Linked DNA regions of Homo sapiens. The protein of the gene in region 1 interacts with the protein of each later gene in a pairwise test. Each region holds a gene or a part of one and is shown in the gene's direction. Other genes may lie near its edges. The genes, in order: TAS2R19 and LNPEP.

Region 1 (6,048 bases):
TAAAATGATGGGATTACAGTCATGTGCCACAGGGCCTGGTCTGTAATATTATTAATATATTAAATAATCACGATGTTTTAAAAAATGTAAATTAAACAGAAGTGACATAGCCGTGATATAAAACAGTGACACAGTGTTATTATTATGATACAAGGCAAATTGTTTTGATTTTTCCTCATAATGGGTGTAGATTAAGAACCATTCAGCAAATCACAAGCCCAGTAAAAAGTACCAGAAGCTCTGCTCTGCTTAGTGAAGACAGCACATCCTGGAAAGCATTTGTGAGTGTTGATTTAAGTTTCTGGTAGTCTGCATTCATTCTATAACCCGTCTGGTTTTGATAGAGGCCAGATAGGTTTAGTGAATCGGCTTATAGAAAGGACTACCATCCCCTGTAACTTTCAAGTGTTTTGTCACGGCACTGACCAGTTCCATTCCTTAGGGAATGCGGTTATTATATTTTATATATTTTGTTGCCAGTAGAGGAGAATTTCAGAGGCTTCCCTTTGGTCCTGCTATAATAATGTCCTTTACTCTACAGTTCACGAAGAATGTGAGTCCTGCCGGCTGCCATACATATCTATTTCAATTATACTTTCAGGAAGAGGTAGTAACTACAAACTGATTAGCTCCACCTTGGAATGGACATGAGCCGAAGCTCTAGGTAGTATCTGACCTTCAAAAACTCCCCCTGCAGGCTGGATGTGATGGCTCATGCCTGCAGTCCTAGCACTTTGGGAGGCGAAGGTGGGAGGATCCCTTGAGAGCAGGAGTTCCCTTCACAACATGTGGAAACTCCGTCTGTACAAAAAATTTAAAAAATTAGCTGGTGTGTTGGTGCATGCCTATAGTTCCAAATACTTGGGAAGCTGAGGCAGGAGGATTGCTTGAGCGCAGGAGTTCCAGGCTGCAGTGGACTATGATCCTGCCACTGTACTCCAGCTTGGGTAACAGAGGGAGACTGTGTCTCAGAAGAAGAAAAAAAAACAAGTATAAGTTCTCACCGGTATCTTAAACATCAAGTAAAACAGTATCGAGTAAAACAAAAAACTAAAAACTCCAAAAGTCAAAAACACTTTTAAAAAGAACATGGTGTTAAGAGTAGTTTGTTCAGTTTCCCCATAGAAAATGATTTATGGAAGGAGAATAAAAGATTATTCTGAACACTAAAACAATAAGACTGAAAAAATGAATTATCAATATTGAGAATCCAATAGACAGAGTTAACCAGTTGGATACAGTACAAGAGAGAATAAGTGAATTGGAAGATAGCTACACAGAATGAAGCATAGAAGGGAAGAGATGGAAATACACAGAGCTAGAGGGTAACACATTGATGCTACAGACAGAACACCTAACATACTTCTGGAGTTCTGTAAGATTAGAGGAGAGAAAATAGAGCAAGAGAAATGTTGCAAGGATTTTTCCAAAAGGTATAAAATGTATCCCTGAATATATTTTTAGTAATCTCAAACTTCAGGCATGATAACTAAAACCAAATTAACATAAAATAATACAGGACGCAAAAGACCAATAGAAAATCTGAAAAGTAGCTAGAGGTAGAAGATAGAGTATGTTGAAAAGAACTGTATTCTAAATACAACCTGATTTTAACAGAAAACATGGAAGCAGGAATTCAATGGATTAATGGGAATCATGTCTTCAATGTGTTTCCAAAGAGTAGTAGACCTTCATAAACAGAAATTGAAAATGATATTTTTCAGATAAAATAAAATTACTGAAAATACAAAGTTGAACACGCAAGGAGCATTACAAATTAATGACAATCCATGCTGGCTAACACGGTGAAACCCCGTCTCTACTAAAAATAAAAAAAAATTAGCCTGGCGTGGTGGCGGGCACCTGCAGTCCCAGCTACTCCGGAGGCTGAGGCAGGAGAATGGCTAAACCCGGAAGGCGGAGCTTTCAGTGAGCAGAGATCGTGCCACTGCACTCCAGCCTGGGTGACAGGGAGACTATGTCTCAAAAAAAAAAAAAAAAATTAATGACAATGAAAACTAAGTGTGTAATTCTAAATAAATGTTGACTATATAAAACAATAGTGTCTTCTTGGATTGAATGTATAATTGATAAGATATATGCAAATAGCAATAAAGAGGCTGGAGATAAAGGTAACAGGAATAAATTTAGTCAAACTGTGTTTTGGGCTTTTCTATGTCTGTGAGAAGAATTTGAACATCATAATCAAGGACCCTGTAATTCTACACCCAGATATATATACACAGAGGAATTGTAGCAAATGATATGTGAAAGAATGTTCATTGTAGCATTATTCATAAAAGCTCAAAAAATAAGCTGTCCAAATATATATCAAATAAGGATGGATAAATAATTACAGTAAAATCAAAAAATGAAAAAAATATAGAGAAGTGAAAAGATATGGATCACATGTACATGCAATGATGGGGTTAAATTTTGGATACAAAATGTTGATTCCAGGAAGCCATGAATAAGAACATATAGGATTGCACCTATACATAGATCAAATCAGGCCAAACCAAGCTATTGAGTTTAGGGTCGAATACCTTATTGGTAAAGTATAAAGAATATTAAAAAAAGACCATCATAAATTAGGGATGTTGCTTATCACAGGAGACATGAAGAAAGGTGTAGGGAATTAGAAAGTGGCATTGAGGTAAACTTAGGCTCTTAGCAATGTTCCATGTCTTGCCCTACATGATGGTTACATGAGTGTTTATGACACATTGCTATGTTTTCCATTTTTGTTTTGGTTCATTTCTAAGTGTGCAGTCTAGCTATATGATAAAAATTATTAATTAGGAGAAATGGTCCATGAAAATTATTATTACTCTGCTCATTATATACTGAAGGGAAAAATCCACTATTTGTATACATTCATGTGTAACTCTAAGAGATTTTAAGTAGAAACTTTCTGATTTTAGTTGCAACTTTAGGAAACTTGACATGATGTTACCTGCCAACCACAGATTTCTGAATAGGTTTTTCTTTTAGGTTTAATTACCCACTTCATATGACAAAACTTGGACATTCTCTATTTTTTCCTTCGATCCTGAATTCCTGACACAACAATGGTGGGCATATTTCCCACACTCCTGATTTAGCAGAATACCTACATCACTTATGTTTTTCTGCAAGAGAAAACTGAGTTAGATAATTGTGTATCATTATGTCTTTGGATTACATTTTTCTAACCTAGGTTTGGTGGATGGCTCTGGTGATTGGAGATGGGCCACGTACTGCATCTTGCCGCTAGTTTGGCTGATTTAGGGTAGATAAGGCAGTGGCATTCTGACTCCATTAGTTTCTCTTTCTTCTTCTGGGAACAGTGTGCTAGCCAGATGATGTCCTCATGGTTAGTGGAAAAGAGCAGGAAACTTCAATATGGAAGCCATCTTAAATCTCTGTAAATTCTACTAATTTCCTGTTGACTGAAGCAAATTACGTGAGTGAATTCAGAGTCCAAGGTCAAGGTAGTCACCCTGCCTGAGGTGGGAGGGTACTGCAGGATTATGTGACAAAGAGTAGGGTACTTAGAAATATTTACAAAATTGCTGAACATTTTAATTAAATAATTAATGTTTAAACAAAACAGACTTGAGTGTAAATATACCAAAGGCCTAAGCTTGAGAAACATGTTTGATAAATATTATTCATTGTCTGACAGCCCTGAGTTGGAAAATAAGACTAATACCACCTGGATGAGTTCCTGGAAACTCATTTTCCATTTGGGGAATTATAAGAAAATAATTCCTTCCATGCCCTAAGGGTGTGAGTGCATGTGTGTCTATGTGTTTAGGAGCTTATTAACAATGATGTCATATCAATTTATTGGTTATCAGAAACCAGATTTTAAAGTGTATCAGCCTCCCAGGGATTTCCAAGATAATCTTGGATGATTTTGATAAAAGGTTTAGAATCTGGTATTTAAATCTGGCATAAAAATAAGTCCATATTGGTATGATCCTAGTTATGACCAAGCTCCTTTAACAATTTAGACATTTACTATATGATATATGTATTGGGTTTTACAATTTCCCTATGGAACAACTGAAGATGCTGTATACAAATTATGGAGAGGTTAAACAAGGAAAAAAATTGCAAAACAATGAAAAATAATATGCCTTTCTTTGCATACTAACACATGAGAATTCATTTTCCACTTCAACCTCAGTATAAAAAAGTACAGCATATAGCAAGGAGAGAATGTATATGAAGAGGAGTGAATTTGAGCTGTTTTGAGAATAATGACCTTTTCTATTTCTATAAAGACAGTTTTGAATTCATCTATTAGCATATGCTGGTGCTTGCCTGTTGACACTAGTCACTGAATTTAAAGGCAGAAAATGTTATTGCACATTTAGTAATCAAGTGTTCATCGAAGTTAACATCTGGATGTTAAAGGACTCAGAACAAGTGTTACTAAGCCTGCATTTTTTTATCTGTTCAAACATGATGTGTTTTCTGCTCATCATTTCATCAATTCTGGTAGTGTTTGCATTTGTTCTTGGAAATGTTGCCAATGGCTTCATAGCCCTAGTAAATGTCATTGACTGGGTTAACACACGAAAGATCTCCTCAGCTGAGCAAATTCTCACTGCTCTGGTGGTCTCCAGAATTGGTTTACTCTGGGTCATGTTATTCCTTTGGTATGCAACTGTGTTTAATTCTGCTTTATATGGTTTAGAAGTAAGAATTGTTGCTTCTAATGCCTGGGCTGTAACGAACCATTTCAGCATGTGGCTTGCTGCTAGCCTCAGCATATTTTGTTTGCTCAAGATTGCCAATTTCTCCAACCTTATTTCTCTCCACCTAAAGAAGAGAATTAAGAGTGTTGTTCTGGTGATACTGTTGGGGCCCTTGGTATTTCTGATTTGTAATCTTGCTGTGATAACCATGGATGAGAGAGTGTGGACAAAAGAATATGAAGGAAATGTGACTTGGAAGATCAAATTGAGGAATGCAATACACCTTTCAAGCTTGACTGTAACTACTCTAGCAAACCTCATACCCTTTACTCTGAGCCTAATATGTTTTCTGCTGTTAATCTGTTCTCTTTGTAAACATCTCAAGAAGATGCGGCTCCATAGCAAAGGATCTCAAGATCCCAGCACCAAGGTCCATATAAAAGCTTTGCAAACTGTGACCTCCTTCCTCATGTTATTTGCCATTTACTTTCTGTGTATAATCACATCAACTTGGAATCTTAGGACACAGCAGAGCAAACTTGTACTCCTGCTTTGCCAAACTGTTGCAATCATGTATCCTTCATTCCACTCATTCATCCTGATTATGGGAAGTAGGAAGCTAAAACAGACCTTTCTTTCAGTTTTGTGGCAGATGACACGCTGAGTGAAAGAAGAGAAACCCTCAACTCCATAGATTCACAAGGGGAGCATCGTGGGTCTTCTAGCAGAAAACAAACTGATGGTGTCTGGAACATTTTATATTTCTATCAGTTTTTCCATAGTGTTTGTATGTGAGTAATTTCAAAACAGATACCTAGAAAAGTCATATATATATTTATGGGTGTATATGTGTGCATGTGTGTGAATAACAACGTTGACCATAAATTATGAAGCTGAGTATATTTCACATATATAGTATTTATATTTTATTATAGTTCATTGTATAGTATTTCATTTGAAGAATTTATTATCTCTCTTTATAATTAAGAACGTACAGCTTTTATGAAGAAATCATTTCTCTTTTCCATTGTAATTTGTACCACATATATGTGCTTAACTATCATTGGTGAACCTCTAATTTTTTGGATGGTAAAGACATTCAATTTTAAATCAATGATAAGAATGGATCTTTGGGGTAGGTTTTATTTCATTATGAATTCTTATTTTATGCTTAGTAGAAAGCAAATAGAATTGTTGTTAGTTAATGATGCACACAATAAAATTGGAGTGAAAAACATATGTAGAGTAAATTTTGTATATGTATACCAAAACAGTACTAAAGAATACTAGATTTAATACCAGTATGTGAATAGCCTAGAATAAAAATCATTTCTATAATAGGAATGAAGAAACATGCTGA
Region 2 (7,164 bases), on another chromosome or scaffold:
TTTGCATGCAGGGTTGGTATATTTTGTAAAAACTTAAATTCATCTTAAGAAATGCAAATGCTAAGGTTCACCCTCAGAATCTGATTAAGGAGGTCTGATTATATATGAAATACATACTAGAAAGTATGTATACTTTCTTTTTTTTTTTTTTTGAGACACAGTCTCACTCTGTTGCCCAGGCTGGAGTGCAGTGGCACAATCTCAGCTCACTGCAACCTCTGCCTCCCGGGTTCAAGTGATCCTCCTGCCTCAGCCTCCCGAGTAGCTGGGATTACAGGCGCCCGCCACCATGCCCAAATAATTTTTGTATTTCTAGTAGAAATGAGGTTTCACCATGTTGGCCAGGTGAACTCCTGACCTCAAGTGATCCGCTCACCTTAGCCTCCCAAAGTACTGGGATTACAGGCATGAGCCACCGCGCCCAGCTGAAAGTATATATACTTTCTAGTTTGTGATATATTCTAAAGTATATCTAAAGGTTGGTATTTTGGCATTTTGAGGTCCCAGAACTGAAAACATAAATAGTTTTTTTTTTCATATGAATGTAGGTCCTATGAATCACTTTTATTACCGCAGTGTGGTGCATAATCAAACAAGGAGGACTTAGTTGTCTTAAAAAATTATTTTTGCTTTCATGTTCAGATTGGTATCCAGTTGAAAGTATTTTTCAACTTCAAAAATGGGAAGTCTGGGCAACAAATGAGATATTTGTGGGTTGTAATACAGTATAAAATTGTGATTCCATCTTTTAATCTTACAAATAACAATTGTTCTATAGATATGTGAGTCTTTTTAAAAAAAAATTTTTAGCATCACTTCTCAAAAATGTGAGCATACCACATTTTGTTTTTATTTTTCTTTTGCTCTATGATAAATTTCCACATTGAAAGACAACTCTTAAGAAATAGGAGCTCATAGTTTCTCTGTGTGATGGAATATAAGTTAAATCCTGTTTTTATCTTTCTGTCTTAAGTTTTTAATTTTATTTGGGGGAAATAAGACTGTTAGGAATTAAGTGTTAGCATCACTAACAATCTAGGGTTAAAGCTATAGCTAGAAACAGCCCAGTTTTTAACTGGAAACTAGTGGTAGAAAAGTTCTTTGCTATTACTTGCCAGTTTCCAAAAACTGTCTTGATACATGCATAAAAACAGCATATTTTAGAAACTCTTATAACCGGTGATTATCATTTATCTGTAGGTTATCCTTGAGAACTCAGCCTGAAAGATAGATAACCAGAGAGATTGGTTATAAGGAAATTATATAGAAAATAAGTGGTAATTTTCTGCTCAGTAATTCAATCATACAGCTATCTTTTGAATGCCCATTTACAAGTAGATTTTCTGCTAGACACAGTTACATTAAAAAAAAAAAACCCACAACCTCGTCATCAGATAATGCTTACCTAAATAAGAGAAATGAATAGAAGAACCTAGTTTTGTTGTCATGCTAATATGAAATATGGAAACACAGAAGAAATAAAAAAGCAATAAAGTTTTGTCTAAGACAGTATTCTAATTATGAAATAAATGTACAGAAACTGTTCATAACTGTTTGCATGTCTACTAATTTAGTGTAATACTCCTATTAGGAAACAGCAGTATTAACCCTGTCTATGAAAACATTAGGAAATTGAGATTTGAAAGAGTTTAGCCAAGATTACCCCAGATGTTGGGATGGACCTAGATGAGGCCTGTGGTTCTTGGCAGTCGAGGTGAGGTCAGTGCAGCTATGTTTTGTCAATTAGTCACCTCATGACTTGAAAACTGTAGGGCAGCAGTCCCCAAACTTTTCGGGACCAGGGACCACAGTCGGGGGGATGTATGTATACTTTCTAGTTTGTGATATATTCTAAAGGGGAGAAGGTTTGGGGATGACTCAAGTGCATTATATTTATTGTGCACTTTATTTCTATTATTATTGCATTGTAATATACAATGAAATAATTATACAACTCACCATAATGTAGAATCAGTGGGAGCCCTGAGCTTGTTTTCCTGCAAGTAGACAGTCCCATCTAGGAGTGGTGGGAGACAGTGACAGATCAGGCATTAAATTCTCAAAAGGAGCACACAACCTAGATCCCTCACATGCGCAGTTCACAATAGGGTTCGTGCTCCTATGAGAATCTAATGCCACCACTGATCTGACAGGAGGTGGAGCTCAGGTGGTAATGCTAACGATGGGGACTGACTGTAGAGATGAAGCTTCACTTGTTTGCCTGCTGCTCACTCCTGCTGTGTGGCCTGATTCCTAACAGGCCAGAGACTGGTACTGGTCTGTGGCCTTGGGGTTGGGCAAACCTACTGTAGGGGGCTGGAGTTGAGCTGATACTACTAGGCCTTTCCATAGTATAATTGGAGCAACCAGAAAGACACAGTCTTTTATTTATTTATTTATTATTATTTTTTTAATTTGAATCCGTAGATAAATTTCAGCAACTTTTCTGAAAGTTTGCAAGAAGCCAGGATTGAGAATGAAGGGACATTTTGGAGCCCTTGTGGTGGTACAGTTCTTTTTATATCTAGATCTTGACCTAGATCTACATATGGCCGTTATAGAGAGTGTTGCTTATTGCCTTGGTGTTTCTGGACAGTAAATGGAACATCAAGAGTTCTCTGTGTCCATGGAAGGGTGGACAGGATTCCCTTGTAACCTTATCCATTGTTGTAATTCATTTGTGATTGTCCTAGCAGCACCTGAAGGACTTTGCATTTTACAAAGATGTTTAGAGAAAATTGGAAGAGGAGAATCAATGATGAAGATGAAAGAAATGTGGAGATTGGGGGTAAAGGAAGAAGCTGATAGGCAGAGATTTTAAAAATGGTCATGCCTTGATCCTTGCAAGTCTTTGGTTCAGAAATGAGCTTCAGTTGGAGAGCAGGACACTGTTGTATGAGGTTGAAGACAGAGTCTAGGTTGGAAGGGGACAGGTAGGTAGGTCTGGTTGGATTAATGGAATTGGGGGCTCAGGGGACAAATGAGTTAAGATTGGCATTTGGGAGCCTTGCCAAGAGATAGAAAACATTTGCCAGAAATTTAAGCATACTGTCTTTTTTATAGTCAGAAAATTCAGTCACTCGTAAGTTGGGACTGTTCACTTGTCTGAATGTTTTAGATTTAAAGAAAAAATATAGCTCTTTGATAAACAACGTGGTGTGGAGCTGTGGTAAGCCTGCTCTTGCTCCTGACTCACCGCCGCTCGCTCTCACCAAAAAACAGGTTGGTCAGGAGATACAGAAAAACGCCCATGAAGCCAGAGGTGGCAATTCACTGAATTAGAATCACTCTAGGCCCAGCGCGGTGGCTCACACCTATACTCCCAGCACTTTGGGAGGCTGAGGCAGGCGGATCACCTGAGGTCAGGAGTTTGAGGCCAGCCTGGCCAACATGGTGAAACCCTGTCTCTACTAAAAATACAAAAATTAGCTGAGTATGTTGGCACGTGCCTGAAATCCCAGCTACTCGGGAGGCTGAGGCACAAGAATCACTTGGACCCAGGAGGCGGAGGTTGCAGTGAGCCGAGATCGTGCCACTGCATTCCAGCCTGGTGACAGAGCGAGACTCCATCTCAAAAAAAAAAAAAAAAAAATACGAGAACACTTGGACACAGGGTGGGGAACACCACACACTGGGGCCTGTCATGGAGTCGGGGGAGGGGGGAGGGATAGCATTAGGAGATATACCTAGTGTAAATGACGACTTAATTGGTGCAGCACACCAACATAGCACATGTATACATATGTAACAAACCTGCACGTTGTGCACATGTACCCTAGAACTTAAAGTATAATAAAAAAATAAATAAATAAAAAGAATCACTCTAACGAGCTGCAAGGTAAAATCCTTGGAGAAGGTGTGTGCCGACTTGATCAATGGATCAAAGGAAAAGAATCTAAAGTGATAGGACCAGTTTGAATGCCTACCAAGACTTTGAGAAACATTACAAGAAAAACTTCTTATGAAGGTTCTGAGACATGGTATTGTTTCCAGATGAGAATCCATAAGTGACTCATTGACTTCCACAGTCTTTCTGAGATTGTTAAGCAGATTACTTCCATCATTATTGAGCCAGGAGTTGAGGTTGAAGTCACCATTGCAGATGCTTAAGTCAACTATTTTAATAAATGATTACCAGTTGTTTAAAAAAAAAAAAAAGAAAACTATAGAGAGCTATCTACCTTTTGGGACTACCATGGTAGCAGTCATTTGCTGTTCCTTTTTTTGGGAGGGACGGGAACAGGGTCTTGCTTGGCTGGAGTGCAGTGGCACGGCCACAGCACTGCAGCCTTGACTTCTCAGGCTCAAGCGATTCTCCTGCCTCAGCCTCCCGAGTAACTGGGACCACAGGTGCACACCACCATGCCTGGCTAATTTTTGTATTTTTTGTAGAGATGGAGTTTTGCCATGTTGGCCAGGCTGGTCTCGAACTCCTGGGCTCCAATGTTCTGCCTGTCTTGACCTCCCCAAGTGCTGGTACTATAGGTGTGAGCCAGTGCGGCCCTGTGGCCAGCCTACTATTCTTTATAGCCTGGCTTTGCTTCACTTTTCTACTGGTGCTTGTGATAGAACAATGAACCAATTAATTTTTTTAAAATTCCATCCTTAACATGTAAATGAGGAGGAAACCAGGTCATTTGCCAAATAAGGAAAATTCAAGCTTCCAAGGGAGTTTCAAAAAACAATGGAGGATCAAGTTCAATTGTAGGAGACTTTTTGAAATTCTTTTTCTTCTAATACATATTGCTTAATGAAGGTACTCCTGGGCATTCCACATATTTCAAAAATGTAGTCACTGAACCAGAACTTGAATCAGTTGTCTGAATTTCTCTGGATTGTGGGGCTCAGAGTCTTCTCCAGCCAATGATCTGGGGTGAAGGAAGTTAAAGAAGGCTTCTTCAACTGAGGGAACAGAAGAATGAGGAGTGCAGTGAGAAAAGGATGCCTCTATGGGTTGGGTGTGCTCCCTTCCTCTTGCAGCAAGTGATGAACAGTGCTATGTGGGAGCATTTCCCGGACAACTGACTCAGGTGTCATTCAGTGCCATAGAGAAAATTTCTGGTAAGGAAGGAGGCTTAAGCCATAGTATTTCTCACAGCTGAAACTGTTATTTTGTCAAATTTAAAACAGTTGTTAGTATATTCATCAATGAAACATCATTACATTGTCAATGAAACATTTCATTGTCAATGAAAAGAGTCAAACTGTAAAATCTTTAAAGAGGCTTATTCTGAGATAAATAATGTGTGACCAAGGCCCAAAGCACAGTCTCAAGAAGTCCTGAGAACATGTGCCCAACATGGTTGGGTTACAGCTTGATGTTATACATTTTAGGGAGACAGAAGTTATAGGCAGACAACAATCAATACATGTAAAGTGTACATTGGCTCAGTCTGGAAAGGGGATAACTCAAAGCGGGGACTTCTATTCCAGTTCATAGGTGGATTCAAAGATTTTCTTTTTTGTTTTTCTTATTTTTGCTTTTTTTTTTTTTTTTTTTTTTTTTTGAGACAGAGTCTCATTCTGTCACCCAGACTGGAGTGCAGTGGTGCAATCTCAGCTCACTGCAAACTCCGCCGCCCAGGTTCAAGCAATTCTTGTGCCTCAGCCTCCTGAGTAGCTGGGATTATAGGCATGTTGCCACCACACCCAGCTAATTTTTGTGTTTTTTCAGTAGAGATGAGATTTCGCCATATTGCCCAGGGTGGTCTTGAACTCCTGGCCTCAAGTCATCACCCACCTCAGCCTCCCAAAGTGCTGGGATTACAGGCATGAGCCACACATGTGGCCACATTCAAAGATTTTCTGATTGGCAGTTGGTCGAAATAATTAAGTTATTATCTAAAGACCTGGAATCCATAGAAAGGAGTGTCTGGGTTAAGATAAGGTAAGGGGTCATGGAGACCAGGGTTCTTAATATGTAGACGAAGCCTCCAGGTAGCAGGCTTTCAGAGAATAGATGGTTATTATCTCTTATCAGAACGTAAAATGTGCCAGACTCTTAGTTAAATCTCTCCTGGATCAAAAAAAGACCTGGGGTGGTGCAGTGGCTCACACCTGTAATCCTAGCACTTTGGGAGGCCAAGGCAGGAAGATTGCTTGAGGCCAGCAGTTCAAGACCAGCCTGGGCAACATAGTGAGAGCCTGTCTCTACAAAAAAATTAAAAATTAAAAAAAAAAATTAGTCAGGTGTGATGGTATGCACCTGTGGTCCCAGCTGCTTGAGAGGCTGAGGTGAAAGGATCACTTGAGCCTGGGCAAAGTGGAAGTGAGCTGTGGTCATGCCACTGCACTGCAGCCTGGGCAAGAGAGTGAGACCCTATCTCAAAAAAAAAAAAAAAAAAAGAGATCAGAAAGGTCTTTTTCTATAGAATGTTCCACACAAGAGACAGCTTTGCAGGGCCATTTCAAAATAGGTCTAAGAAATATATTTTGGGGTAAAATACCTTTATTTCTTTCACAGCCTGCTATCTGTTGTGTGATGTTATACTAGAGTCAGTTTAGAATTTGGTATTTTATTGCTACAAAGAGTGTTTCGTCAGTCTTAAGATCTCTGTTTTAATATTAATGCTGGTCAGTTGTGCCAGAATTCCAAAGGGAGGAGAGTATAATGAGGTGCGTCTGACCCCCGCTTCCCATCATAGCCTGAGCTAGTTTTTCATGTTTACTTTGGAATGCCCTTGGCCGTTCAGTCAGAGGGGTCCATTCGGTCAGTTGAGGGGCCTAGAATTTTATTTTTGGTTTACAAAATCATTCCAAGATCCTCTTTAGAGGAAAAATTTATAGAGATTAGTGGGAATGATGAGGAGAACTCAATCTTGAGAGCTCAATCAAAAGGAGATGTTTAAATATCTTTTTAAGTTGGTATTGGTAAAGTGCTTTGAAGACAGAAAGAATGTAATACATGTCTGGTGTCTGCTTGTCCTATAATTGTCGGAAGGGCCTCAATGATGAAATAAGGGAGGCTGCCATGACACTTGAGTCTTGGTGAGAGGAGCTAGTGTGTCCACATTTATCAAGATCACCTGCAGGAGTTTGGGCTGGCCCCCTCTTATTAGTAGTTTCTCTGTTTTTTAAACTGGAGGCTCAGCGCCTTAGTATCTAGATTGGGTAGCTACATTATGAAGATAACTCAAACTGAACAATAGAGTATTGGGTATTAGT

Evidence for each region.
Region 2: the proteins of TAS2R19 (region 1) and LNPEP interact in binary tests that used the Homo sapiens proteins (3 or more experiments, as listed by UniProt).

The regions. Positions count from the first base shown.
Region 1 is NC_000012.12:11,020,976-11,027,023, reverse strand, and holds TAS2R19 (taste receptor type 2 member 19), read left to right. Parts: upstream 1-4,403; 5' UTR 4,404-4,452; coding exon 4,453-5,352; 3' UTR 5,353-5,405; downstream 5,406-6,048. UniProt on the Homo sapiens protein: Receptor that may play a role in the perception of bitterness and is gustducin-linked. May play a role in sensing the chemical composition of the gastrointestinal content.
Region 2 is NC_000005.10:96,939,080-96,946,243, forward strand, and holds part of LNPEP (leucyl-cystinyl aminopeptidase), read left to right. Parts: intron 1-7,164. UniProt on the Homo sapiens protein: Release of an N-terminal amino acid, cleaves before cysteine, leucine as well as other amino acids. Degrades peptide hormones such as oxytocin, vasopressin and angiotensin III, and plays a role in maintaining homeostasis during pregnancy.